Linked DNA regions of Homo sapiens: region 1 is linked to region 2. The links come from fine-mapping of genetic effects on gene expression. A gene starts in region 2. The other region holds a variant in brackets. All regions are shown on one strand. Distances are from middle to middle.

The links.
Region 1: its variant is fine-mapped to the expression of ALDH1L1-AS2 in testis (GTEx, PIP above 0.99).

The regions. Positions count from the first base shown.
Region 1 is chr3:126,199,483-126,214,469 of GRCh38, forward strand. It overlaps ALDH1L1-AS2 (ALDH1L1 antisense RNA 2), which reads left to right. Exons shown (of 2, transcript NR_046383.1): 2 at 8,844-10,687. LOC124909426 (a long non-coding RNA gene) reads left to right here and starts at 13,550. Exons shown (of 3, transcript XR_007096060.1): 1 at 13,550-14,987. RefSeq lists enhancers at 8,647-9,846, 14,025-14,537. The variant G/A (reference allele first, on the strand shown) is at 7,767.
Region 2 is chr3:126,170,503-126,185,489 of GRCh38, forward strand. It overlaps ALDH1L1-AS2 (ALDH1L1 antisense RNA 2), which reads left to right and starts at 9,563. Exons shown (of 2, transcript NR_046383.1): 1 at 9,563-10,042. ALDH1L1 (aldehyde dehydrogenase 1 family member L1) reads right to left here and starts at 10,084. Exons shown (of 23, transcript NM_012190.4): 1 at 9,974-10,084. RefSeq lists enhancers at 9,744-10,499, 10,500-11,253, 14,104-14,398.

The DNA of each region.
Region 1 (14,987 bases), 29 kb after region 2:
GAAGAAACCTTTAAGTCAGACACTCTTTGTTTAATCTTTTACATGTTTCTGCATACCAATTAAAAATGCATTCCGTTGTTCTTGTGGGTTTTTTCTCTTTGTATTTCTAATTTTTCCCTGAAAATAAACAATTTTATCTAAATTAAAACTTCTCAGCCAGGCACAGTGGCTCATCCTTGTGATCCAAGCACTTTGGGAGGCTGAGGGGGATGGATCACTTGAGACCAGGAGTTCAAGACAAGCCTGGGCAACAGGGTGAAACCCCATCTCTACAAAAAATACAAAAATTAGCTGGGGGCGGGGGGTGGTGTGCACCTGTAATCTCAGCTACTTGGGAGGCTAAGACAGAATAATCCCTTGAGCCCAGGAGGCAGAGGTTGCAGTGAGCCGAGATCGCACCATTGCACTCCAGTCTGGGTAAAAGGAGTAAAACTCTGTCTCATCAAACAAGCAAACAAACTTCCCCACTGTGGCTGCTGTAACTCTAAATTATTTTTGGTAAGGCTCACCCATTTCTCCAGAAAAGCCCTGATTCTGGGTCCATAGTTCATATACAAGAAATTGACTAGAGTCCCAGATGGGGGAGTTCTAAGCTCCTTGGATCCCAGTGAACCCATGATTCCCTATCTCCTAGGAACCCTACCTACCACACCCAGTTCAGTTTCTTCTTGACCCAGCCAGACATCTGAAACCTCTATAGGATCCAGTCCAGTTTGAAGATTTCTGAACCCAGTCTGGATCAAATTTCTCAAATAAGCTCAGAGAGCTCAGAACCCGAATGAGTGGAGCTCAGAATCCGAGAGGGCTCAATCCACCATCCCCAGTTCCAGGGGATCAGTGGGCACAATGGGCCTGGTGGGTGCCTTTGCTTTGCCACCCCCTGCTCCTGGGGGTCACTATGCTCCTCTTTGAGTTTCTTCACATTCACTGATCTGTTGAAAAGGGAAAACCTCAGGCAAGCTTAAATTTATCAGGTTTATTTAAGGGGAAAAAAACTTGCAAGCTGGGCAGCCCTTAGAACTAGAACAAGTTCAGAGAACTCCTGCCTGCCACATGGTCAGACAGCATTTATGAACAGAAAACCAACATGGAGCAAAAAGAACAACTAAGTTGGCTACAGCTCAGCGTTTTATCTCACTGGGTCGGCTGACTGCCTACTATGACATAAGGCTCAAGCCTTAACTAACCAAACTCAGCTATTTGTTGCCTTAGTATACTCTTAAGGAAATTAGTGACATTTAGCATGAGTGACTCCATATTGGCTTGGTCTGCTGGATGCAGGAGAGGAGCCTGATTCAAATCAATGGCCCCTACAAATGTTACTGAAGAGTTCTAAGGAGGGTTCCTGAGGTGGCTGTGGCCATGAGGGCCCGCTTGAGGCTGAAGATGGGAAGCACACACATTCTTATATTCTCCATTCTCTGCAGTTGGTGTTTGCTTATTCCTGGGCTGGCCACCACCTTTTGTAATTGCTGTAGCTTTTTGCTTTATTTTTCAAATTATGTTATTAAAAATTAACTATGCACTCTTTGACCCAGCCATTCCACTTCTGTGTATTTTACCCAAGAGAAATGAAGATATACATCCACACAAAGACTTGTAGAATGTTCACAGCAGCCTATTCACCATAGTCAAGACCTGAACACAAGTCAAATGCCCACCAATTGGAGAATGAATAAAAAAATTAATACTTTTATACAGTAGAGTATTATTTATTAATAAAAAGGAAGGAATACATGCAGCAATATTATGTTAAGTGACAGAAGCCAGACTCAAAATAGTACATGCTGTGTGACTTTTCTACAGGATGTTTGAGATCAGATAAAACTAATGTATGGTAATAAAAGTCAGCACAGTCACTGGGTGAGGGTGGGGTTGACCGGAAAGCAACCCCAGGATATTTCTTGGTGCAATGAAATGTCCTCTAGCTTGTTCGAGATGGTGGCTGTGCAGGTTGTGAAACTGCCAAAACCCATTAAACACAACATGTAAGATCTGTAAACAGAAATTATTATAAGGTTAAAATTAACTACAAAAGGAATATGTGCTTGGTATAAAACACGAAACAATCCAAAAATGAATAGAGAAAAAGTTAACAACCCACTCACCCTCTTTGGACTTCCCTGAGGCAATTGCTATTACTGTTGTTTGTGTACAGAACTGAAGGCCTGTTACTATCCTGCAAAAACTCTTGTTACTATTCAAGCATCACGCCTGTAATCCTAACACTTTGGGAGGCCAAGGTGGGAGAATCACTTGAAGCCAGGGGTTCAAGACCAGCCTGGGCAAAACAGTCTCTACAGATTTTTTAAAAAATATATTAGCCAGGCATGGCAGCATGCAGCTGTAGTCCTAGCTGCTTAGGAGGCTGAAGCAAGAGTACGGCTTGAGCCCAGGAGTTTGAACCTGGGTGACAGAGTGAGATTCTGTCTCTAAAAACAAAAACAAAATGAAATTGATATTGAAACTTTCAGTTCAAATTTAGGCTTGTAACATTTTATGTAGCTTCTTTGGTCTCAATAAAAAAATAATTTGAAAACAAGAAAGATTCTAAGAAGATAATTAGATAAGTGAAATAATGACATTCAATAGGTTTGAAATATAAAGTTAGAAACACCTTCCAAAAATTAGATTAAAATGATGAATAAATGGAAAATAACATAAAAGATAAAAGGTTTAGAAAATCAACCCATAAAAGATGAAAGGTTTAGAAAATCCACCCATGAATCAACCCAACATTGAACAATAAGTGAAGTCGCATATATTCTAGTTGACTTCCAGTTACTGTATGAAACTTTTTTCATTTATTAGACATGTAGGGAATAGACTGACCACTGAACTGAGACACTCTCAGACAATCACAGCGTTCAATCACAGACAATTGCAGACATTCTCAGACAATCACAGTGTTGTGCCTTCTTAGCTACGGCCCCAGACTCCACCACAGCAGGTGGGAAGTTCAGCCAGTTCCATTTCAGACTTGAAGGGCCAGGACACCCAGATGGCAAAGACTGGCCTCATGCCCACTAAGGATGAGTTGCGAAGCAGACATTCATGAGAAAGGGAAAGGAGAGATGCTGACAACCACATCCACACAGCTCTTGGACAAGGAAACTAGGATGCAAATAACAACAGCATCTTGGAAAAAGGTGGTGCTGCACTTGAAAGGAAGACAGGAACCCACTTTTAAATATTTTATTCCCAATGAAACATGAGACAATGAAACAGGAGCACTTGTTAACTCAAAGAAGGACTGAAAATATGCCCCCTTCCTCAAAACTCTTTTTTAGAAGCCACTGGAGCACGCAATCCAGAAAAAAAAAAAAAAGAAAAAAAAAACAGAACAAACAAAGGAACAGCAAGATCTGGATGCAGGAGCCGTGGGGGCGGGTACTGGTACAGGACACGGGCTACAGTCAGTCTCAGGATGCCTGCAGGCTGGGCAGCCAGAGGTCCTGTGCAGCAAGGCAGAGGTGCTGGGGCACAGTGGGGTTGACAGAGTCTGCAAGATGAGGCACCTTATAAAGGATATGGCCATGTACTTGACAGGTCTAATGCAGCATTTTGAAAAAATAAATAAAGATCAGTGCACCAAAATGAAGCAAATTTTAAAATGAGGTCATCACTAACTCTAAGCGAAACAAAAAGTTGGACTAGGAAAAAACCCCACCATATACTACTATTGCGTTTGCAGTGTGGTACATAGTCTTAATAGACTACTAATGTATAATAGATTGTAAAATTTATCAATATTTTACTACATCCGTACTGGGAGATTGGAGGGTTGGGGAGAAAGGGAAAATGCAGAGAAGGGGGCTGGCACAAGGAATAAATCTTCATCTGTCCTGACAAACACTCCGCAGAGCATATCAGAAATTACTCATTGGGCAATAGCTGTGCAAGCGTATTATTTGGAAGCACTTATTAATGTGTTTGGTATTTCCACTCTTGTTGGATGTGTGCAGCAGGCCCACTTCAGGTGCAGAAGGGGAGGTCCATTGTCTCATCCTTGTACACCTAGCACCACCAGGGTGTCTGCAGAAGGCAGGGCTTAGTGAGCTAATGAACAGGCAAACACATACACGTCCTTGGATATCCCTCTGCCACATTCAGGGAGCAGGGGTCTGTGTGTAGGGAACCTGCTCCTAAGGCAGTTGGCTGTTGTCTACCCCACCCCCCCACACACACACCTAGGCTGGACTTACCCTCTCAGGCCCCAAAGGTCAGGCCAGGTAGGGCTGGGACAGCCTCCCTAGCAGGGCCTGATGGCTAAGGAAGCAGGGATGTAGGCTGAGAAAGAGAAGGAGGGAGACACGGGGGTTGCAGGCTCTGATTTCAGGTCCATGCTGGGGCCCTGATGGCTCATGCTAGAGATGGGTATCATGCTTGCAAAGTTCTACAGGAAACGGGAACATGGGCACCGTGTCCCTGGGCTGCCTGGGTCCTCCCTGCCAAGTCCAGTTCTGCTTAGACTCACACGCGGCCATCTCTCCATTTATAGGGTTACTCCAGTGAGTTCAATTACAGCACTGATTCCCTGTGCTGAGGGCTCAGGACAGGCAAAGAGCTGCCCTTGACTTCCGGGATTCTTAGGTTCCCCATGGCACTGATACTGTGGACTTGTGAAATTTCATTTCTGATAAGATTGCATAAATCCCAATGAGGTCACTGTATTAGTCTGTTCTCGCATTGTATAAAGAACTACCTGAGACTGGGTAACTTATAAGAAAAGAAGTTTTAATTGGCTCATGGTTCCACAGGAAGCATAGCTGGGAGGGCCTCAGGAAACTTTCAATCATGGTGGAAGGCAAAGGGAAAGCAGGCACATCTTACATGGCCAGAGAAGGAAGAAGAGGAGAGAGAGGCGGGAGGTGACACACACTTTTAAACAACCAGATATGAGAACTCACTATACCAAGAGCAACAGTGGGGATCTGGCCACACGATCCAATCACCCCGCACCAGGCCTTTCCTCCAACATTGGGGATTACAATTTGAGGTGAGATTTGGGCGGGGACACAAATCCAAACCATATCAGTCACCTTCTAATGAAATGCTTTTTAATGAGGTCGAGAGCTTTGCAATTGGTGCAGAGGGCATACACCTGGGAGAGTTTTTTCTATAAGGGTTTTTCGCTGAAGCTTCCTGAAAGTATTGGTGTCTTTATGTTGTAATGGGTGGGCCACTGAGTTCAACCAACATTTAAACAAGCACTTGCTATGTATTGGCCTGGATGAAAAAGGCAGGGTCCCTGTGCTCCAGAAGTTCAGAGTCAGGGAAGGGAGATGGATGTGTCCAATCCATTCATTCTCTTGATAAATGTGTACTGAGCACCTAGGATATGTTGGACACTGTCCCAGACACTGAGATATAGCAAAGAACAAAATTTCAAAAAAACACCACATAGGACTTACCTGACTGGGAACAGACAATAAGCATAATAAAGATGGGAATTATCAGCTATATGAAATGGAGAAAAATAAAGTAGGGGAGAGGAGAGGGAGAGTTGAGGGAGGTTGCATTTTAAACAGAGTGGTGAGGGAAGCTTCATGATAGAGTGATAACTGAGCGGAAACCTACTGAAGGAAAGTGAGTCAAGTACACCCAGGGGAAGGGCACACCAGGGGGAGGAGCATCTGGTGGGAAGGGCACACCTGGATGAAAAGTACAACTGGGGGAATGGTGTACCTGGGGAGTGAGTGTACCTCAGGAAAGGGTGCAACTGGGGAGAGGGAGCACCTGGGGGAAGGGTACACATGGCAAGTTGGTACACCTGGGAGAAGGTTCACCTGGGGAGTAGGTGCACTTGGGGAGACGGTACATCTGTGGAGAGGGCACAGCTGGGGGAAGAGTACACCTGGGGAGGGGGTGCACCTGGGGAGTGGGTGCCTCTAGGAAGAGGGTGCACCTGGGGGAAGGGTGCACCTAAGGAGTGGGTATACTTGGGGAAATGGTGCACTTGGGGGAAGGGTACACCTGGGGAGAGGGTGCACCTGGTGGAAGGGTATACCTGAGGAGTGGGTGCACCTGGGGAGAGGGTGTACCTAGGGAGTGGGTACACTTGGAGAAAGGGTGTTCCTGGGATGTGGGTGCACCTGGGGGAAGGGAGTACCTGTGGAAAAGGTGCACCTAGAAAAGGTACACCTAGGGAAAGGGTGTACCTAGGGGAAAGGTACACCTGGGGAGTGGGTATACCTGGGGAAAGGGTATACCTGGGAGAAAGGTACACCTGGGAGGTGGCTGCACCTAGGAGATGGACACACCTGCGGGAAGGGTTCATCTTGGGGAGGGATTGTCTCATCTCCCTATCCTTTCCCTCCCCTTGTCATTCAAACCTCTAAAATACAAGCTTTTCTCAACTTGGGGCTTGGGGACAAGGGTCACAGAGTCAGTAACCATTAGAAGCAGTATGTAATCATTTGTGTGTACTGCATACAGTGGCATTTTTCTCTAGTGAGACAATTTGTGACTTTAGAATGAGCTTTTTCCCAAAGATTGAGAATCCTGGGATGTTTATTCAATTTCACTCATGAATGCAATGGTTTATTAAAGAATACATTTCCAGAGGAAGTGATGGTCAGAGACGCTTGCTAAGCTTCTAACAGAAGCTTGCAGCCCTGAAGGCTGCCTGCCTCCTCCTGGAGGTCATACCCAGATCTATGCTGGACACCCAGGTCGTGCAAAGCTCAGAGGTCAGCAGGGCTGCCTCTGCCAGCTCCTTTCATGGAAGCTGAGGCACAAGCCTGACAACTTGTTCACTTGCAGCTGACTTCATGCTTTTTGCTTTAGCACATACTTGAGAGAATGTTTCAATTGGAGTCCAATCAGACCAGCCATCCTACTTTGCCATTTTATCACAACCTCAGCACATACACAGGAAAGTTTTAGCAGTTCAACAGAACATTTTTAGTCATTTGGCAGAAGTAGTATGCCAATTTGCAAATTTGCTGGAAATTTCCCAATATACAATCTCTGTTAACAAGCTCATTACAAAACTTCTCACAGCCTCCCTGGGGGATTGTACTAGGAACTAGATGTATCCAAGGCACTAATGTTGTTTCTAGATATTTTATTTTTATTGTGATTGTAAAAGAGATCTTTGTTCACTTTATTTTGTAAAGGGTTGTTGCAAGTATATATAAATGCAACTTATCACTGTGTTTATTTTATATCCAGCCACTTTATTCTCTTACTATTATCCCTAAATACTTGCTACGTCTTTGAGGAATGCCCATATTTTTCTGCCCTGTGGACATCACTTCTTGACCAATAAATTGGGAGTTCAGTGCTGGATTCTGAGCAGGGAAGTGATGTGTGCCTTCTAAGCAGAAGCTCTCTGGGTATCTGTTACTGCTTTTAAAACCATCCCACTGTAATCCCAGCACTTTGGGAGGCCGAGGTGGGCAGATCACGAGGTCAGTAGATCGAGACCATCCTGGCTAACACGGTGAAACCCCGTCTCTACTAAAAATGCAAAAAAAAATTAGCCAGGCATGGTGGCAGGCGCCTGTAGTCCCAGCTACTCGGGAGGCTGAGGCAGGAGAAGGCGTGAACCCAGGAAGTGGAGCTTGCAGTGAGCCAAGATCGCGCCACTGCACTCCAGCCTGTAAGCAAGACTCTGTCTCACAAAAAACAAAATAAAACAAAAAAACAAAACAAAACAAAAACACCATCCCAACACAGAGTGGCTTAAAATAATGGTTCATTATGATGTAATGGCCCTGTGGACTGGGTGCGGTAGTTCTTTCTTAGGTTTCTTATGTGTG[G/A]TAGTCAGTTTCTGGCTGCGGCTGCACACCACCTGAAGGCTCAGCTGGGCCGGATGTCCAAAATGGCCGAGTCGCACAGTGAGCAGTGGATTCTGACTGTCACCTGGAGCCTCAGTGGGGGCTCTTCACTGGAGCACTCACATATGGCATCTCCACATGGCTTGGGATTCTCACAGCCTGACAGCTAAATTCCAGGAGGGAACATTATCAAGAGATCCAGGCATCTTACAAGCCCAGCCTCAGAAGTCCTAGAATGTTACTTCCATCACAATCCATTGGTTAAGCAAGTCACTAAGGTTAGTCCAGACTTTGTTAGTAAGACAAAGGCAAGATTCCAGTACTTGGTGTAAGAATCATCCAGCACATACAGGGAGGAAAGAAATTGATGGTGACTGTCTTTGGAGACTATCCATACCAAGCTTTAAAAATCATCACCTGGTTCCGCAAGCTCTTTTCCTTGGCCATGAGGCCAGCGTGTCCCAGGTAAGGGCCGCTAGAACTCAATGGACTGATTCGTTCATTCGGGCATGCATTTTAAGTTAATAAACACTTACTGAGTCTCCACTGAGTGCATACATGATGGAATCAAACCAAACCAAGGCCCTCTTCAGCTATACCCATGTCTGGGGCACAGGAGGGATAGTGGGGGCAGGCTGTGCTTGTTAGGCAGATGAGTTCAGAACTACAGAGTGATGCAAATATTAACACCTATGTAGCACTTACTGTATGCCAAGTATTACCATTTTACATACTTTACACATTGTGCTTTACAGCAGAACCTGAGAAACACGCTCATCAAGTCCAGGAAATAAATAGAGGTATCAGCTGTCACTTTTTTATTGTAAAATTTTTTAGTAGTGCAATAAAATAAAAACAAAATAGAATACATAATTATTAAGAGAGAAGACATAAAACATTACTATTTTCAGATACAATGATTTTGATCTGCAGAAGTCTCAAGAGAATAAACAGAAAAATTCCTAAAATTAGTAAGTAAAGCCCTAGCTCCATCACGTACAAGCCTTATGAGCTTAGGTCACTCACTTCCTGTCTCTTCTCTCATCTGAACCTCTGTAGGGCCCTGGAAATGGGGGATCTCCTGCCTTGACAGCTCATCAGTACGTGTGAAAAGCCAACAAGAGTGGATATGATAGGAACTGCAATCACACAGCACTTTGGAGAATGTGAAGATTGGTGCTCACAGCAGAAGTTAACACACTGATGCTGTGATCACTGTTCAGTAGGTGGAATGGTCCTTAGTGATCCTTGAAGAGTAGCTGCAACTGGAAGACACAGAATGGAGAGGGTGGATCATGCAAATGAAAAGATGGGCTCCAACATTCAGCGGAAGGAATTTATGGTTGGTTCCCCCGTTTTTTTGTTGGCGGTGGTGGTTTATTTTCATTCCCCATGCCCGGTCCTTCTGATGGCACTCACTGATTTGGCTCTAGGGCACAAGTCTATGTTGCATGCAGTCCTGGTGTAACAATCAATTGAGGCATTTCCTGGGCGAGGAGCTGGGACACGGGCCAAGCCAATCAGACTCTGGTTCCCCCAGGACGCTGAGTCATAGTGGAGCCATGCCAAGACGGAAACAGCTGACCTGCTGTGCTGCTGCCATGGCTCCCTGAGGAGTGTCCCTCAGTTCCTAAGAGGGGACTGTCTGCACGCTGGCTCTTATGGGTTGATTTTGCACTTTTTCTTTGATTCTGAGAGCTACCCACATCCTCTCCAATTCTTGCTCCAGTCAACCAGACACAGTTTCTATTGCTTGCGGTGGAAGACATGCCCATGCAGAAGGCGTCAAGGCTCTTGGGAAGATGGGGAGTGGCATGTGTTCTCATGGTGTTCACAGCTGCACATGGGAAACACCTCATTGCCTTCGCACAACAAACCCAAGAGGGAGGGGGTTCCTTCCCCAATTCTGCAAATGGAAAAACTGAGGCTCAGAGGGGAAATTGATCTCTCAGTGTCACAGCCAATGAATGACAGAGGGAAAGTTGTGGTCCAGGGCTGAGTCCGGGTTCCACAGTGTGTAGATGAATTTCTTCAACCCCTTCATCATGTGACAAGAGCCACAAGGTCTCCAGGCCTCCTGGACATGACAGGTGTTTGCTCACAAACTGAAACTTTCTCTGCTGGGTCACACCCTCCTCGCCCATCCCTACTCTTGGTGCAGGGCATGAGCTGGACCCTGGAAGACCAATGGGTATTCAACTTTCAGAAAGCCTTGGCGAGGTCTAGTGATGAAATAATTTTGTCATTTGGAATGCTGACAAAAAAAATTTGAATTTTTCGGCCATAGTTTCATTTCCATAAATCACTTCATTCTTATCCTAATCCTTCCCCAACTGTTTGTCAAAATTCCCATCAAATATTTTTCCACTTGGAAGACTGATTTTTAACACTCATACCCCACCCCCACCAGGCCACGGTGTGGACATTTTTCATTCCTAAAGTCAGGAGGCCAGAGACATTTCCAAGAGAGATCAAAGCACTTGCTGGCCACGTTGGAAAATGAGAAGGGAGGATAAGGGTGTGAAGGGGCATCCTGCCTCCAGGAGGGACCCCCTCCAAGTGAGTTAAGAGATGTGGGCCAGGAGGGCTGAGCAGTAGCATCCACTGGGAAGCCCTGGGCTCCAGGCCCAGCCCTGTAGCTGCCTCACTGGACAAGCCCTTCCAGCTGGCCTCGGAGGACATGGACCATCTTCCCGGGTTTGGCTGTGTATCCCAGTAGCACCATGGAGTAGCCAGGGCCCTTGGCCAGGCCACTAAACTACACCGTACCCCCCTTGTCATCTGTTGCATGCAGGCATCAGAATTTACCTTTAAAGAAGTGTTTCTCAAACTTGAGTCACTTAGTTTTCATGGCATATTTATACAATATATGTGCGATTATTAAAAGTTTCCTTTAAATCAAATTATTGCCTTTGTTTAAATATCTTTCTGTAACTTGCACATATCATCACTGAAGATGGAAAACCAGTATCACATGCCGTAAACAAAGGGTAACTAAACAAAATAGCACAACTATAAAATAACAGATTTCATATGTCCCCTAAAATCAACTTGTGTACTACCAGTGATATGCACACCCAATTTTGGAAACACTACTTTAAGGGGGTTGGGATATGAACTCAAATACCTCCAACTCTAATATCCCCAAGTCCTTCAATTATCAGGGGTTTCTATTTCATAATTTAAAAAACAAGCAGCCTGAATCCACATTCTACATGCGATGGCAAGTCTCCTCCCACCCATTTCTTCTTCCCTTAGGAGACTTTTGTGGATTTCCAAAAGGTTCATGTTTTTCAGGAACAAACCAATGGCCAAACCGTGGTGTGGTGGGGGTTGAGGGGTGTGAGCTACCTCCTTTCCCACAGTGCCTAGCTCCTCGCTGGCAATCCATGTTCCATTGATGCCCAGATTTACACACCAAGCCTCTCTCCTGAGCTGCAGATGTGTGCACCTGACCATACACTTGGCAATTCTCTTTGGCTATCTTGTTGACGCCTCAGCTTAGCACACTGAAGACAGAACTCCAGACCTTTGCCCTAATCCTGCTTTCTCCAGGCTTCTCTGCCAGGGGGAGTGGCCATTCCCCAGGTCCTCATGTTTCCACAGGGGCAGAGACCACGTCTGTCCCATTCCCTGCTCTATGTCCTATGCCTGGCCGGAGTAAGAGCTTGTATGGGCCAGCTTAAGCTGTCATACCAAAGAACAAACGACCCCACGTCCTAGGGACTTCAAATAACAAAGGTTTATTTCTCTCGCATATTTATGCCTCTCTCAGCATGGCTGGGTCTTGATCCATGTCAGCTTCATTCCAGAATCAAGGCTGATGCAGCAGCCCCTACCAGACGTGCCAGGCTGCTGCCAAGGGAGAAAGAGCGACAGTGCAGCCACCGATGGCGCCTGGAGCTGCCACATCTGCCACACTGCTCATTGCCCGTGGCAGAGACTGAGTCACGAGGGCCGGGAAGCTCCGTCTCCAGGGAACAACTTGGGAATAACTGCACAGCCTCCCACAGTGCTTGACAGATACTGATTGGATACTGATAGGAATAAGGTGTCACAGGCAGCTTCCATCATGATCAGCTTCCATCATGGATCATGAAGTTCACATGAAGATTAGAAAGTGGGCTTCATGCTTGGGTGGGACACAGAGCTCACCCACTGGCTGAGATATTCATTTCTCACACAGGTGAAGTCAAAGGCCTTACACACAGGACCCCCACACCCACAGGCCTCACACTTGGCCCTGGAGGCTGCAGGCTGGCAGCCCAGTGTGTGGGGTCCCCCTGCTAAGCCCCTCCAGCCTGCCCCTATCCACACCCGTCCTCCGCCTCTGCATCTGACCCGGCTCCCACATCACACCGCTGGGGGCTCCTACCTCCTGTGGGCCTCACTGCCTAAGAGTCTTTGAACCTCTTAGTCACTCTGAGCCTTCCATGGTTTGGTCCTTGGAAACCAAAGGCTCACACAAGGTCCCATCTAAGGGGCCTGCCCAGGAGGCAGATCTGGTCAGTCAAGTCCTCTCTCAGCAGGAGTCCCCTGCAGGCAGAGACTCACGGCTGCTGAGCCAGGAAGTCAGGGCCACAAGACTTATAGCCCTGGCAAGTCTCCAGGTAGTTGACACTGGATACACTGCCATGGTGGGGCTGGAGGGTCAGCGGGCGGTAGGTCAGGATGTCAAAAACAGGGGAGATTGACCCTATAGATACACCTGTATGAGCACAAAATGGCAAGCACACAGCCCAAGTTCCTATCCACAGGGTGTCCGTTGAAAAGATCATGGGTACACCTTGGAGCACTTGAGGCGGATGTCAGAAAGAATGAAAAAGCTCTGTGCAGGCCTATGGAAAGGGCTCTGGGACTGAGGAAGGAAGGAGAGGGGGAAGGGAGGAAGGGAGGGAGTGAAGAAGGAAGGAAGGACGGAAGGAAGGAAGGAAGGAAAGGAGGGAAGGAAAGGAGGGAGAAGGGAAGGAAGAAAGAAGGAAGGAGAGAAGAAGGAGGGAGGAAGGAAGAAGAAAGGAAGGGAGGAAGGGAGGGAGGAAGGGAAGGAGGAAGGGAAGATGGAAGGAGGGAAGGAAGGAGGAAGGGTGGAAGGGAAGGAGGAAGGGAAGATGGAAGGAGGGAAGGAAGAAGGAAGTAAAGAAGGAAGGAGGAAGGGAGGAAAGAAGGAGGGAGGGAGGAGGAGAGAGGGAAGGAAGGAACGAAGGAAGGGAGGAAGGAAGGAAGGAAAGAGGGAAGGAAGGGAGGAAGGAATGAGGAAGGGAGGAAAGAAAGAGGGAGAGAAGGAAGAAGGAAGGAAGGAGGGAAGGAGGAGAGGAGGGAGGGAAAGCAAGAAGGCGGGAGGAAGGGAAGGAAGGAGGGAGGCGGGGAGGGGTACACAACAAGGGCAGCCTAGGCTCCGGTTGCTGTGACAAAGAAGCGGAGTGGCCCTGCTGCATTCTTTTGCTGGCATTTGGCATAAGCCTGTGATAGATAAAGAGCAGAAGGTGCCTTTAGGGGGCACCGAAGAACAGGGTCGATAGGGCTGGGGGAAAGCAAGTATTTCAAAGCTAACTTTTCCATCATTTTTGTGTTTGAACCATGTAAATGTATTGCCTGTCCCCCTAAAATGGATTAATTGAGAAGAGAGCGAGACCACGCCGAGCCTCGGGCCATCACAGCCTGAATGGGAAGCAGCGAACCCCGCTGTGACGGCTTCAGGCCCCGGCCTGTGGAGGGTGGGGGAGTCGCCCTTGGGAGGGGCTGGGCCCCACCGCCGGCTCTGCTTCTCACGGCAGGGGCGCCCCCAGGAAGGGACAGGACAGGGAGCTTTGTCCCGCAGCGAACGGGAACGCGGAGGCCCGGCCTCTCGCCTCCCCACCCTCCCCACCCTCCCCGCGCCTTCTCGGGCCTCCGCGTCCGCCCTGCGCCCTCGGAAGGCGCCGCCCGGCGGCCGCGGCCCTTCGCCGCAGCCAGAGTGCTTTGTCCGAGCTCAAAAAAGCCGTCTCCATGGAAGCGGCCCTTCCGCTCGGAGCCCGGCGGCCTGGAGGGAGACCCGGCGGGGATGCGAGGATTCCGCCCCAGCCCCAGAGGACGCGGCGGAGAGCCTGGAGGAGGCGCTTTGAGAGTCGAGGTCTCCCGCCCGCGCGCCTCCCTGGCGCAGACCTCTTTTAACTTTTTGGCGTGGAGTGCGCGTCCTGACGTGCCCCCTGAGCTACAGCTTACTGAGCTTTACTGGCTTCGCCGGACAGCCGTCCCCAGGTGGAGAGACAGCGCGTCGCGCGCTGCCCGGGCCCCGCAGGGCCTGGCGCCTGGGGCCCTTGCGCCGCTTTGGGGCGAGGGGATCACACCGCGGGCTCCCGGAGCTTAGCGTCTTCCACGCGGCGCTGTGTGTCATCCACGCAGTGTGCTCTCGCTGCCGTGTTCAGGTCACTGCGAGGGTGAGCCCCGCTTTATCTACCCCTTCTGCTGTTGATGGGCACTCGTCTGGGGCTAGAAGGGATAAGGTTGCTGTGAGCGTTCTCGTGTGTTTTTGGTGCACGCGCACACACATTTCTCTGGGGTGCAGACCTGTCTAGTAGTGGAACTGCCGTTTCCCAGCACTTTGGAGCAAAGCCCTGTTGCAGTCTGAAGCGGAAAAGGCAGACGGGCCTTCCATGTTCGTGATTCCAGCCAGGCACAGAAGGGAAGGACAGGGACAGCAGCCGCGCGGAGGCGAGGAGGGACACTGGGCGCTGCTGTCCCCTCTCAGGGGCAGCCACTCCTCTTGTGGACGCAGGTGTGGTCACCAGAAGGGAAGGACAGCAGAGGACTCTTCAGGGACCTTCCTGGATCCCCCTGCAATGGGAGTGGCCTACTTGCTTGACTTGAGGGTGAGACTTGGTCAGCCCTTGACTGTAGGGGGCAGGACCATGGGCTTCAGTGGGGCAGCACCCATGACCCACGCCTCTGCTTCCATTCCCTGCTTACTGCCCGGGCCTCTGGGCAGGGGAGTCTAGTCTCCCTTCCCAGGCTTCCAATGCCTCGCCCCCTGCTGTGGTAAGGATTCGCGCTGGTCCCTATTTATTAATCAGGGAACTTGGGGTTCCAGTTTTCTCCCCTTCTCTGCATCTCATCCCCTTGAGAGCCCCCTGGAGCAGAGGATAACGCACGAGGGGACTGGCTGTGTATATTTTGATAACAATATCAAAATACTGTCAAATACTAAACGGAAAAGAAATAGGAAAA
Region 2 (14,987 bases):
AATGTTTTTACTCTGCCTAATTAACCTTTATCAAAAATTTTTAACCGACAGAATCATGGCCATTTCGCAACTACCCAAAAACATCTACAAATGGTGTTGATCCTACAGTCAATCTAAGACCAAAAAACTCTCCACCCCCGCATCAGCAGGAAGTAGCTAGAAAGAACATGTCCCCTCTTGTCCTTTTATAACCATAGGGTCTGGAATGATAGAGCAGGAGTACTGTCATCTCAGACAAACACCGCCACTTTAAATTCCAGCTCCCTTTCTAGCCTCATGCATTTCAAGGAAATCACTTCTCTTCTAACTACAAGCAGCCAGAAAGAGCAGACAGTAAAACACGGATAAGACAGCTGGGACACAAAGGGAGGTGGGGGGAAAGTATCTTGGGTAACTGCCAAACTTCACCCTCATACGATGGGCCCCAGTAAAACAGTGGGCCTTAATAATAAGGAACAAGCACATTCCCTTTCCTTCAGGGGCACTAAGACAGGAAAGCTAAAAGCAGACTCTTGGCTGGGCGCGGTGGCTCATGCCTGTAATCCCAGCACTTTGGGAGGCCGAGGCGGGCGGATCACGAGGTAAGGAGATCAAGACCATCCTGGCTAACACGGTGAAACCCCGTCTCTACTAAAACTACAAAAAATTAGCCAGGCGTGGTGGCGCATGCCTGTAGTCCCATCTACTCAGGAGGCTGAGGCAGGAAAATCGCTTGAACCTGGGAAGCAGAGGTTGCAGTGAGCCGAGATGGCGCCACTGCACTCCGGCCTAGCGACAGAGCGAGACTCTGTCTCAATAAATAAGTAAAAACAGACTCAGGGACTATACCTGCAGCTGCAGGAAAAATGTATGAAAACAGGCACACAACTCTCCCTCCCAGATAAGCACAACAAAGAGACACAGAAGCAGTCCAAGCCTCTGATAAACTCTCCCATCCTGAATCCTTAAAAACTCAGTCTGTAAGAGAGTGTGCCTCTGACCTAACTTGGCCAGAAGGCTCCTTTCAGGTTGATTTTCTCTAAAATAAATGTCTTAACTGGCAAGCCAGCTTTTGTATTTCTTTCCTCTTTCTTTAATTCTTACAGTTCTCACAGTAAGGATTGGAGAAAAATCCCCTTCTGGTTTTGGCAGGAGGCAAGGAAAGCAGTCATTTTTTTCTCAACATATCTACCCTCATAGAAACTATTATACCAGAGCCTAAGTGAATGGACACCCAGGGCCTAACTAACCTAAGTGATGAGGAAAAACCCAAATCCAGCCCCTCTAGCCTTTCTCATCACCTAAAAGGGGTAGGACTGAGAAACACTTGTGAAGGTCACAGCCCAGGGGTGCAGGCTCACTGAAACACTAAGACCTAATTGTAGGACTGTAAAACACTTCCCCCCACCAAAACACCTTGCTACTACATCCACAGGGCTCCAGTATAGTAACAAGGGGATTACGGATAAGAGAACTGCAAGCCAGAGCCTATTTAAGGAGTTTCTACAAAAACCCAAAGACAACAGGGTAGACAAAAACAAGAAGATGAAGAGAGAAAATTATATCCTCTGATACCCACAGCTATAGCAAATAGTAAACACATTCTAACTCCTAGACAGGTAAATATCAAACCTCACACTAAAAGCCTATCTACCTCAGTACCTTTTACCCAATACATTATATCTGATTTTCTGCAAAACAATTACAAGATATATAAAAGACAAAAACACAGTTTGCAAAGATGAAACAAGCACCTAAACCACAATCAGATATGGAAGCAATGTTGGAATTTTCAGATGGAAAATTTAAAACAATGATAATTAAAATGCTAAGAGCTCTAATGGAAAAATGTGGAGAACATATAAGAACAAATTGGTCATGTAAGCAGAGAGATGGAAATTAAGAAAAAAATCAAAAAAAGTCTAGAAATAAAAACCCTGTGATAAATGCAAAGAATGTCTTTAATAGGTTTATCAATAGACTGGATACAGTTGAGGAAATAATCAATGAGATGGATGAAATATCAACAAACACTTCCCAAACTGAAATGCAAAGGGAAATATAGAATAAAAAAGACAAAACAGAATATCCAAGAATGGTGGGACAATTGCCATAGGTGTAAATCCTTGTAATAGGGATATCAGATGGAATAAAAAGAAAGAAAGGAATAGTAAAAATGTTTGAAGTGATAATGACTGATAATTTTCCAAAATTAAAGACAGATACCAAACCAAGATCCAAGCAGCTCAGAGGAAACCAAATAGGATAAAGATCACCCCCCACCCCCCAAAAAATCTATACTTAGGCATATCATATTCAAACTGCAAAAAATAAAAGACACAGAGATAATCTTCAGTGAAGCCAGGGAGAGGCAGGGCAGGACACCTTACCTATAGAGGGAGAGAGATGAGGATTACATCAAACGTCTCTTCATAAACCATGCAATCAGGAATAGAATAGAAAGAATTATTTAAAGAACTGAAAACATTCCATCAACTTAGAACTAACTAGATTCCATCTGTATGCAGTAAAATTGTCCTTCAAAAGTGGAGGAGAAAGACTTCTCAAACAAAAATTGAAGGAATTTGTCACCAGTAAACTGCCTTACAAGATATGTTAAAAGAAGTAATTCAGAAAAAAAGGAAAATTAAACAAGTCAGAAACTCAACATACAAAAGAGTATTAGAAATAAATGTGAAATAATTTTTTTTCTTATTCTTAATCTGAGAGATAACAATTTGTTCAAAATAATAATTGCAACAATGTATTCAGTGATTGTAGCTTATGGATAAGTGAAATGAATGATAGCAGTAATAATAAGGCATGGGAGGGAGGAATCAAGAATACTCTGCAATAAGGCCCTTACACTACCCATAAAGTTGTATAGTGTTATTCAAAAGCAGACTTAAATTAGATTTAAGTGTATATTGCAAACTGTAGGTCAACCACTAAAAAAGCAACAACAAAAAAGTAAAACTGATATGCTAAGAGAGAAAAGAAAATGGAATCATATAAAATGCTCAGTTAAGATCAGAAAAGGCAGAAAAAAGTGTGGAAGAAAAAAGAAACAAAGGGCAAATAGAAAACAGTAATAAATATGGTAAATATTAATCCAACTATATCAAAAAATCACTTCAAATATCAATGGTGTAAATATACCAATTAAAACATGTGACTATCTAGAGTGAATAAAGAATCGTGACCTAACTATATGTTGTCTACAACAAACCCATTTCAACATAAAAACCAGATAGGTTACAAATAAAGGGATGGAGAAAGATATACCGTGCTACCACTAATCAAAAGAAATATGGAGTAGTTCTATTAACTTCAGATAAAGCAGACTTCAGAGAAAGGAAAATTATTAGGAATAAAGAGAAGCACTACATAATGGTAAAGGAGTCAATTATCCCAGCAGACATAATACTCCTTAATATGTATGTGCCTAACAACAGTGCTAAAATGTGTAAAGCAAAAACTGACAGAATTTTAAGGAGAAATAGATGAATCCACTATTATTACAGTTGGAGACATCAACACCTCTCTGTCAGTCCCCACTAACGTTTTTTTTGGGGGGGCGGAGTTTCACTCTTGTTGCCCAGGCTGGAGTGCAGTGGCACGATCTCGGCTCACTGCAACCTCCGCCTCCCGGGTTCAAGCAATTCCCCTGCCTCAGCCGCCCGAGTAGCTAGGATTACAGGCATGCACCACCACGTCCGGCTAATTTTGTATTTTTAGTAGAGCCTCCATGTTGGTCAGGCTGGTCTCGCACTCCTGACCTCAGGTGATCTGCCCACCTCGGCCTCCCAAAGTGCTGGTATTACAGGCGTAAGCCACCGTGCCTGGCCAGTACCCACTAACTGATAGATCCAGCAGGCTGGAAATCAGTAAGGACATAGTTGAACAGCACCATCAATTAAGTGTATCTAATTGGCATTTAGAGAATACTTCACCCAACAACAACAGAATACACATTCTTCTCAAGTTCACATGGAATATTCATCAAGACAGACCACATTCTGTGCCATAAAACATACAACAACAAATATCAATGACTTCTATGATGGAGATTACTGAGATCACAACAGAATCACTAGAAATCAATAACAGAAAGATATCTGAAAAACATTAAAAAAATGGAAACTAAATGACACACTTCTAAACAACATGTAAACAAATCAAAGAATAACTCTCAAGAAAAAATTTAAAATATTTCAAACTAAATTAAAATGAAAATATAACATCAAAATTTATGGGATGCTGCTAAAGTAGTGTTTAGAGGGAAATTTAGAGCACTGAATGCATATATTATTAAAGAAGAAAGAGCTAAAAGCAAGTTTCCAAATTAGGAAACTAGAAAAAGAAGAGCAAATTAAATCCAAAATAAACAGAAGAAAGGAAATAATAAAAATTACAGCAGAACTTGTGAAATTGAAAACATGCTGTCAATAGAGAAAATCAACAAAACCTAAAGCTGGTTCCTTGAAAAGATGAATAAAACTGAGACACCTCTAGCCAGGTTAACTAAGAAGAAAAAGAGAGAAGACTCAAATTACTAATATCAAAAATGAAAGAAGGGCCATCAATACTGATCCTACGGTCATTAAAAGGATAATAAAATACTAGTATGAACAACTCTATATCAACAAATTTGGTAAGTTAAATGAAATGAAACAATCCCTTGAAAGTACAACGTTCCAAAACTCACACAAAGAGAAATAGATAATCTGAATAGGCCTATACTGATTAAAGAACTGGAGCCAGTAGCCTTCCAAAATAGAAAGCACTAGGGTTAATGAATATGACTAAACATTTAAGAAAGAAATTATGCCAATTCTCTATGATCTCTTTCAAAAAATAGAAGTAGAGGAAATTCTCTAATTTTCTTGGGTCAGAATTACCCTGGTACCAAAACCAGAAACATTACAAGAAAGGAAACTAACAGATCAATATTTCTCATAAACATAGATGTTAAAATCCTCAAAAAAATCAGCAATTGAATCCAACAATGTTTAAAAAGAATTATACATAACCACCACATGGGATTTATTCTAGGTTAAACATTTGAAAATCAATTAATGTAATCCATCGCATGAATAGGCTAAGGAAGAATTATATGATCACATCAATAGATCCAGAAAATGCATTTGACAAGAATCTAACATTCATTTATGATAAGAGCTTTCAGCAAGCTAGTAATAAATGGGAACTTAACTTGATAAAGAAGATCTATGAAAAACCTACAGCTAACATCATACTTAATGGAGAGAAACTAGAAGCTTTTCCCCTAAGATCAGAAATAAGGCAAGGATGTTCCCTTTCACCCTTCCTAGTCAACATTATACTGGAAGTGCTGGCTAATGTAATTAGAAAAGAAAAGAAAATGAAAAGTCTACAGATTGGGAAGGAAGAAATAAACTGTTCTTGTTCTCAAAAAACATAATTGGCTATGTGGAAAATGCCAACAAAGCAACAGAAAACTGGAAATAATAAGTTATTCTGCCAAAGTTGCTGGATGTAAAGTCATGGTTAATATACAAAAATTGATTACTTTCTTATATACTAGCAATAAACAATTGAAATTTGAGATTAAAAACACAAAACCATTTACATTAGCACCAAAAAGTGAATTATTTATACATAAACCTAAAATAGGTCAAAATCTATGTGAGAATAACCATAACTGATGAAAACATAAAAATATGTATAAATAAATGAAGAGATAGTACATGTTCATGGGTAGGGAAACTCTATACTGTCCAGATGTCAGTTCTTTCCGACTTTATCTATAGATTCAATGCAATCCCAATCAAAACCCCAGCAGTTATTTGTGGATATCAACAAACTGATTCTCAAGTTTATTTGGAGAGACAAAAGACCTGGGATAGTCAACACAATATTGAAGGAGAACGAAGTTAGAGGACCGATACTGCCTGTCCCCAAGACTTTACTATAAAGCTACAGTAATCAAGACAGTACGGTATTGGCAAAAGAATAGTCAGATAGATCAATTGAACAGAATAGAGAGCCCAGAAGTAAACTCACATCAATACAGTCAACTGAACTTTGACAAAGAGACAAAGGCAAGACAATGGAGAAAATCTGCATTGCACAAAAATCACACAAATATCTGTACACTGATGTTTACAGCATCTTTATTTGTAACTGCCAAAACTTGGATTTGACTTTTTAGATACAACAACAACAGCACAATTCATGGAGGAAAAAAAATGGTACATTAGACCTTATTAAAATTTAAAACTTCTGCTCTGCAAAAGACACTGTTAAGAGAATGAAAAGACAAGCCATGGTTGGGGAGAGAAGACATATCTGGTAAAGCACTGTTATCCAAAATATACAAAGAACTATTAAAACTCAACAGTAAAACAAACAACCCAATTTTAAAATGGGCCAAGTAAATTAACCGACATTCACAAAAGAAGATATACAGATGGCAGAGAAGCATTTAAAAAGATGCTCAACACTGTAAGTCATTACAGATTGCAAATTAAAATATAACAATGAGATACTACTATATGCGTATTAGAAGAGTTAAATTAAGAGCACTGACAACAAATGCTGATGAGGCTGTGGAGCAACAGGAACTCTTATTTATTACTGGTAGAAATGAAAAATTATGCCACCACTATGGAAAAAGGTTTGGTAGTTTTTTATAACACGAAACATACTTTTACCATGTGATCCATCAATCGCTCTTGATATTTACTCAAAGGAGAAGAAAACTAATGTCCACACAAAAACCTGCACACAAATGTTGATAGCAGCTTTATTCACTGCTAAAACTTGGAAGCAACCAAGATATCCTGTAGTATGTGAATGGAGAAATAAACTGTGGTACCTCCACATCCATACAACAGAATATTAGTCAATGATAAAAAGAAATGGGTTACCAAGTCACAGAAAGACATGGAGGATGCTTAAATGCATTTTGCTAAGCGAAAGAAGCCAGTCTGGAAAGGCTATATACCATATGATTCATACATACTATATGACATTCTGGAAAAGGCAAAACTACAAAGGCAGTAACCAGTGGTTGCCAGGGATAGGTAGGGGGGTTGGGGGGTGGATGGGTAGAGCACAGGAGAGTTTTAGGGCAGTGAAACTATTCTCTATGATACTGTAACACTGGATACTCATCATTATATGTTTGTCCAAAACCATAGAAGGTACAACACCAAGAGGGAATTCTAATGTAAATTATGGACTTTCATTAATAACATTGCATCGATATTGGCTCACCAAGTATAACAAAATTGGCCAGGCCTGGTGGCTCACACCTGTAATCCCAGCACTTTGGGAGGCCAAGGCGGGCTGATCACTTGAGGCCAGGAGTTCAAAAGCAGCCTGGCTAACATGGTAAAACCCTGTCTCTACTATTATAAAAATACAATAATTAGCTGGGCATGGTGGTGCACCTGTAATCCCAGCTACTCGAGAGGCTGAGGCCCAAGAATTGCTTGAACCTGGGAGGCAGAAACTGTAGTGAGCTGAGATTGTGCCACTGCACTCCAGCCTAGGCAACAGAGCAAGACTGTTTCAAAAAGAAAAAAGCTGTAACAAAAATATCCTATCAATGCATGATGTTAAAAATAGGGGAGGCCAGGCCTAGTGGTTCATGCCTGTAATCCCAGCACTTTGGGAGGCCAAGGCAGAGGATCACTTGAGCCCTTGAGTTCAAGGCCAGCTTGGGCAACAAAGTGAGACCCATCTCTACAAAAAAATTTTTAAATTAGCCAGGCGTGGTTGTGCATGCCTGTAGTCCCAGCTACTTGGGAGGCTGAGGCATGAGAATCACTTGAGCCCAGGAGTTCAAAGCTGCAGTAAGCTGTGTTTGTGCCACTGCACTCCAGCCTGGGCAACAAAGTGAGACCCTGTCTCAAAAAAAAAAAAAAAGAAAAAAAAAAAAAGAAAGGAAAAGAATAGAAAGAAAAATAGGAGAAAGCGCGCAGGAAGGGACAGACTGAGAATATGGGAACTCTGCACTCCGTCCTCAATTCTTCTGTAAACCTAAAACTGCTCTAAAAATGTCTACTAATTGAAATAAATAAATGAATCTAGCTCTATAGTTCACATCTTACTCTAAAATACAGTCCAATTGGGTTAAAAATAAATACTTGAAAATCAAATATAAGAAGAAAACATTAAATTATTAGAAAATATTGGTAAATATTGAGTTATACAAACCTGACACTGTCAAAACACCCAACAAGTAACAAACCACGATAATTGTGTAAGGCTTAAGTTTGTGTGTGTGTGTGTGTGTGTCTGTGTGTGCATGCGTGTGTTTATCTGCAGGGTAAAAGCCTAGAAGAATTTACACTGAAATGTTGAAAGTTACTGGGTAAAGGGTTTTGGGTTTCAGAGGTTTTTGACGACTGTAATTATTTTGTTTTCTTAACTGAATGTTCTTTTTTTATATTGTACATGATTACTTCTGAAAAAAAAAAATAAAAGAGTATGTCGTTCCCCCCCTGCAGGGAGGCAGAGTCCAGGTGGCCACCAAGGGGCTGTTGTCACAGTCCAGGGAAAGCCAGAATGGCAGGCACGGGAGCCTTGGGAGGGGCCTCAATCAGGCTTGCCCTTTGGCCCCAGAAAGAGCAGGGGCCTGCAGTGAAGCCCATAGAGCCCCTTGTGGGCCGTATGGGCCGCCTCCAGGCCTCCACCTCCTCCCCCAGTCATGGCCGCTCAGTGTCCTTTCACTTGGTGGTGTGGGGACACTGGGAGGCTTCCTGGGCCTCCCAACCCTCCTACCCAATTCCCAGCCCAGGCTTGGCTCTCCAGGACCCAGCTTCTAGTCCCTGTGAGGCTGGGCCACCCTGCAGGACTGCAGCTCTGGGCCCTCTGTTCTGGTGCTAGGGCCCTGGGGCCCATGAATGCAGTTCTAGCACTCGGGAGGCTGAGGCGGGAGAATCACTTGAACCCGGGAGGCGGAGGTTGCAGTGAGCCGAGATCGTGCCACTGCACTCCAGCCTGGGCGACAGAGCGAGACTCTGTCTCAAACAAACAAACAAACAAACAGCAGCCAACATTCTCCGAGGGTTTCCTAGGGCCAGGCGCGGGGCAGTCTCATGTAATTCTCAAGCAATCTTGGGAGGCAGGCACTACTGTTCATTGCCCCTCCCGATTTTAGAGACAAGAAACTAAGATTCAGAACACAAGAAACTTGCCCAAGGTCAAGGAGAAGTGGAGGCGTGGGGAGGAAACAAAGTCACCTGACACCAGAGCCCATGCCTCCAAACTCCAAGTCTGGGACTCCTGATTAAATTCCGTCTCTGTCTGCACTTTGGGAAGATTCTTTCCTCTCCTAGGCAAGTGCCCGCGGGGCCTGAGCTCTCGATAGCGGGGCCCCAGGAGCCACGTTGTGGGGTCTGCTATCCGGCCTCCCTCTGCACGCGCGACCGTCCACTTGAGCGCAGTGGCTGGAGCTGGGACTCCAGCGCAGCCCCTGAGCGCTCACGTCGACCCCTCCAATCACAAGAGGCCCTCGTGCCAGGCCCCCAGATTTGGCCAATCAGGGAAGACCTTTCCCTGTCACAGAATGGGGTCGAGGGGCCCAGGAAACAGGTAGTCCCCAGTCACAAATCATCGCGTCGCCTTCGCTGGTCCCTTTCTCTTATCGAGCCTCAGTTTTCTCTTCCATAAGCCGGGCCAGCAGTGCCCACCCCACAGGTTGGCGCCAGCTCCGTAAGGGCCCTACCACCGCGGCCGGCCAGATCCTCGGCGGGCCAGTCCTGGCGCTGCGGTCATTTAGCCTGATGACCCCTGGCCAGGTTCAGCCTCAATTGCTCCAAAGAACTCCGGACCCGTACCCCGAGCCCGGCGTCCCAGCGGCGAAGTTGATGGGCCCCGCAGGAGCCCTTGCGGTGAGAACCGAGTCCTGGAGCCCCTGGAGCCCCCGGAGCCCCCGGAGCTGCAGCCGGGGCAGCCTCCTTTCCGCCGGGAGTCCAGCGCTCTCGAGAGCCCAGAAACTCACCGCGCGCAGGAGTTGGTGCGGGCGTCCCGGGCAGGTTAGACTTCTGTGAGCCGCAGCCCCGAAACTGAGGTTGGTGCAGACCCGTCCTGGGAGCCAGGAGGTGGGACCTGTCCCCGCCAGTCCGCGAGCTCTGGTTAAGGCCAGAGCCCGTGAGGGGAGGGGCGCGGGGCGGGCGGAGAGTCAGCCGAGTGGGGGCGGCGCTCACCGGTGGTGGGACTATGGCGGGAGCGCAGCGCACCCTCTCCGGGCGGGTCTATAAATGCCATGTAAAAGCCAACCCCGCAGGGGCCTGCGCTCTTTCCCGCTTAGGTCAAGAAGACTTACTGTGGACCCTTGGAGAATTCCCAGGGCTTTGAAAAGTCCCAAGCACCCAGCAGGGCTGGCAGTTCTGAGCGCTGGCAAGGCTAAGTGGGTCAGAGGAGACCCTCGCCAAGCCGGTGACTCACTCACTCGCTCACCCTCTCTCACTCTTGATGGGCCAAGTACCTGCCATGTGCTACGGACACAGCAGAGCGAAAGGAGACGCTGCCCTCCGGGAATTTGCAGCCGCTTGCAGAGGCGGCCCCTTAGCAGCTGCGCATCCGGGTGGATAGCGGCGCTTCTGCCCGCCCAGTGCCTACCCGCCTCTCCGAGAGAAAAACAGCCCCTGGTTTTCTCTCTGCAATTCCCCTTCTCCACTCTCTCCCTTCTACTCAGTCCTGGTGCCGCAGACCCCTCCTCCTGGTTCCCAGAGATCCTGGCCAGCCCGGTCTCAGGCAAGGCCATGTAGAATGCCGGGAGTGATAATTGCGTATTGTTTCATGACTGCAAGCCTGTGTCCAGGTGGCTCCTTCTCCTGGAACACCCTTCCCACCACACCTGCGGCCGCACTGCTCCGTGCCCTGCTAAGCCTCACTTCTTTTGAGGCGACCCTCTCGCTAAGTCCCGACCACCTGGCCCTCTCTCTGCTCAGTGCCTGAACACATCAGGCTTGCTGCAGCCCCTGCCTTTACCTCTCTACTTGTAGTGTTCTTTCAGAGCCTGCTCCCATATGGTATCACATATCAGATATCTGATGCAGAGCCTTAGAGAGGCTGTTCCAGGTCACACAAACTAAGGAAGTCCCTCAGCCACTCCCTGCCACATCACCCTGTTCTATTTCCTTCACAGCACTTAACTGTATATCTGATATTTCCTTGTTTCTTTGTTTGTTCATTGTCTGTCTCTCCCACTAGACTGTAAGCTCTTTGAGGACAGGAAATTTGTGAGATGTATTCACTGTTGTATCCCCAATACACAGTGATGGCTTGTAGCAGTTGCTAAATAAATGTTTGTTGAATGGCTTAATGCATGTATTTTGCTCACATAAGCCAGTATGGGCACCCAGGATTGAGGTGGCCTGTGCCTGCTGATCCACTTAGCCTACTTTCAGGCACTGTCCCCTTGTTCTTTAGGCTCCAGCCTGCAGGTCTCCCTGCTGTCCCTCATATCTGTGGAACTTCTCGACTCATAAAGTTTCCATGTGCCGTTCATCTTTGTCCAGAGAACCCCCATCATTCTTCAGGAAGTTCCTACTAAAATGCCATGACTTCAGGGAAGCTTTCCCTAGCCTCAGCCTTACTAGGACAGATTCCTCCATTATGTGATCACAGAGAGGCCTGTAATTTTTCTTCATGAACCTCTCTCAACTTTATTTATTTATTTTTTTTTGAGGTAGAGTCTCACTCTGTCACCCAGGCTAGAGTCCAATGGTGCAATCTCAGCTCAATGGACCCTCCACCTCCTAGGTTCAAGCGATTCTCCTGCCTTAGCCTCCTGAGTAGCTGGGATTACAGGCATGCGCCACCACACCCAGCTAATTTTTGTATTTTTAGTAGACGTTTCACCGGGGTTTCACCATGTTGGCCAGGCTGGTCTCAAACTCCTGACGTCAGATGATCCACCTACCTCAGCCTCCCAAAGTGCTGAGATTACAGGCATGAGCCACTGCACCCTGCCTTCAACTGCAATTTTATCACTGCTTCTGGGATTGCTTGATTAACATGTCTCTGGACAATGATGGCGAAGACTAGCTTATTCTCCTGGGAAGTCCCCAGGGCTGAATGCATGCCCTGTGTGTGGAAGGTGTGCCATATAATCTGTAGGAAAACTGGCTGAGTGTTAGGGGCCTGCAATGGGAAAGTGGTGTGTTCTGAACTTGGGAGTTAAAATTGAGAAGGCAGATGGGCGACAGGAACCACTGAACAATGGCTTGGAGGTTAGACACCCCAAAAAGATGTATTAGGAAATCAGAGAGGAATCCATACTCTTAGAGGTATGGAGCAGGAGAGGAGGGAATTTTAAGCAGAAAGTGTTCCGAAATCATGTGGAAAGTAGAAAATGTACCAGATGAACTGGGGGATCTCATTAAGGAGATTGTTGAAGGTGCCTCCTCCTGGCTTCTTCTTGCTGCTTATACTAAAATGTGAGAGAAGGGACATAAGCCAAAGGAAGGATTGTTAAATAAAAAGGAACCATAACTTGGGCTGTGAAAATGTCCAGCTTCTCCAGATGTCATATGATGCTAAAACTAACAAATGGCTTCCAGGCAAAGAGCAAATGCAGGCCAGTGCAAGGAAGATGGCCTAAAGATGAAGCCAAGAGTGTGGTCATGAGATCTTTTGTAAAATCTTCAAAGAGAACAAAGGGACACCTCAGAATATTTTGTTAAATAGTAGGATTTCTAAGAAGCTTACAGTTGTCCTTGACAGCAGTCTCAGCAGAAGCCCAAGAGAGAGAAGGGCTTTTCTCAAAGAGATGTGTGGGTTTGACAGTTGTCTAAAGGCATGAACCTCAGTGAGATCTACAGGAGACATGCAACATTTTTAAAAGAATTATATGAGCAAAACAGTGTAGACTTGGACTGAAAGGGTCAGAGACAATATAAAATGAAAAGAGACCTCTAGACTCCCCCAAATTCTGGGAGGAAGCAAGCTGAGAAACTATACGGATATGAACCTGGGCTGCATTTCATGGAAAAGAAGGGATGACTTGGGGAATAGAACAAAGAACCCAAAGGGTGGAGCCAAGAGCGTGGAGAATCACTCTGGGGCCAGAGTCAGACTGAGTCCTATTCAAGAGACTTTCAGGACCCGCCCAGGAAGATTTTAGAATTGCCGTACACTAGTTACTCCTGCATGCCTCCTGTCCTTGTTCCCTTTGGAGCAGGCACGTCTACAGTGGTTATCCAATGCCTATCCCACCAGTTTATGTCAGGTGGGTGCAGGGGGGAGGCGCAGTTAATTTGTCTCTGGAATTCCTAAGTCTGTAGATTGAGAGCAACTCTACTCAAGGAGCTACACTTGAGGGAATAATACCCCAGGTGCTTCACCCACATCAAAGCCTGATTTAGATGCAGAGATTCTGGATATTGAGCTGATTCTACAGTGGGATGAGGCTTTGAGGGGATGTTTGGAGGGCGAATGTATTTTGCATGTGGAAGGATGTAAGTAGTTTGTGGCCAGTAGGTGGACTGTGGTCATTTTAAAACTCTCTGATGCTCTTCCATTCAAGGAGTGGCACTTAATTCCCCTGCCTTTGAATGTAGGCTGAACGTAGTGACTTCCTTTTAACACATGAAAGATGGTGGAAGTAACTGTGTGATTTCCGAATCCATCCTTTCATAGACCAGAGAGAGAAGCTGAGGCTTGAGGTCAGACAGTGGCAGAAGCCAGCTTGTCCCTGTCCCAGGACTATATGATACTCTCTGAACGAGTCCCACTGAAACCCTCTTTTGCCAGTTCAGTTCACTGTGCCGGGAATGCCCTGCTTCTTGAAGCCACCAGCTGAGCCCTGCCTGTGCCCCAGGGATGGGCTTGTGCATCATCTCCTTTGGGAAGCCTGACCCCAACCTTCTCCTTGGGAATTCCCTCACTCACAGCACAGACCACACTCTAATGCAACTATTTATATGTGTGTCTGTCTCTTTATCAACTGCAACACCTCTGAGGGCAGGGACAGGGCCTGTTTCATCTGTGTATCCCACAGCCCTGCACAGGCCCTGATCCAGGAGAGGCACCTGCAGTGACAGTGGCTGGATAAGCCCTGCAGAGAGAGCCTCTGCCCGGGCTTTCCGCAGGGCCCTGGTGGCTAAGTCCTCCCAGGGAAAGCAGTGTGCACTTACACAGCCCAAGTCTGGGTAGAACAATGGGGGCTACTGCTCCAATCCAGAGGCAGATTAGGAGACAAGCCTGGCTCAGGGCTCTGTGAATGGGGGATGGGATAGACATGGGTTCTCTTTCTGTTGTATAATGATGATTCAGCTTGTTTTTGGGGAATCAGTAACTGGGACTGTGTGTACGCTGCAAAGGAAACATTAACTTGAAGGTCATAGCCTGTGGGAAATCAAAGCGGGGAGGCCAAGTGACCTGGGCTTGTTTTTGTTTTGTTTTGTTTTGTTTTAATTTTGGAGCCAGTGTTTCTCTTTATCTCCTAGGATGCCTCGTTCAGATGCTTCTACCCTGCCTCGTGAGTTACTCATGATGTCACCTGATCCCCACCCCTTAGAACCTCTCCCCAGTGGGAACCAAGAATTCAAAATGGTTTTCTCCATATTTCCCCCTTTAAAGGGCCTGCATGCAATTTTTCATGTAGAGGCGAAGGTAGGGATGAGACTTAACAGAGCTCTGTGCCACACACCAGAGCCCACCTGATGACCTGCAGACATAGATGGAATGCTTCTGGGCCACAGAGCTTACAGCCCTGCTCCTGCCAGGTCCTCTCCAGCCCCATGCCAAATCTAACCTGGGGGTGTTGCGTGTTTGCACCCCCATGCAAACTGGCTGGTGCCAGCACCTGGCTGGCACATGGCCCCCAGAAACTCACTGTAAAGGAATAAATGAGCAAAGAGGAGGCAGGGACGGTGTCTCTACTCCAGGTGCTCGCACCTCTATGGGGGAGATGAATGCACAGGTGGCAGATATGAAAGGTGGGAGGGGATGTGAACCATCACAGAGGTGAGACATGAAGAAAGCGGGTCTGGGTACTTCAGGCTTCA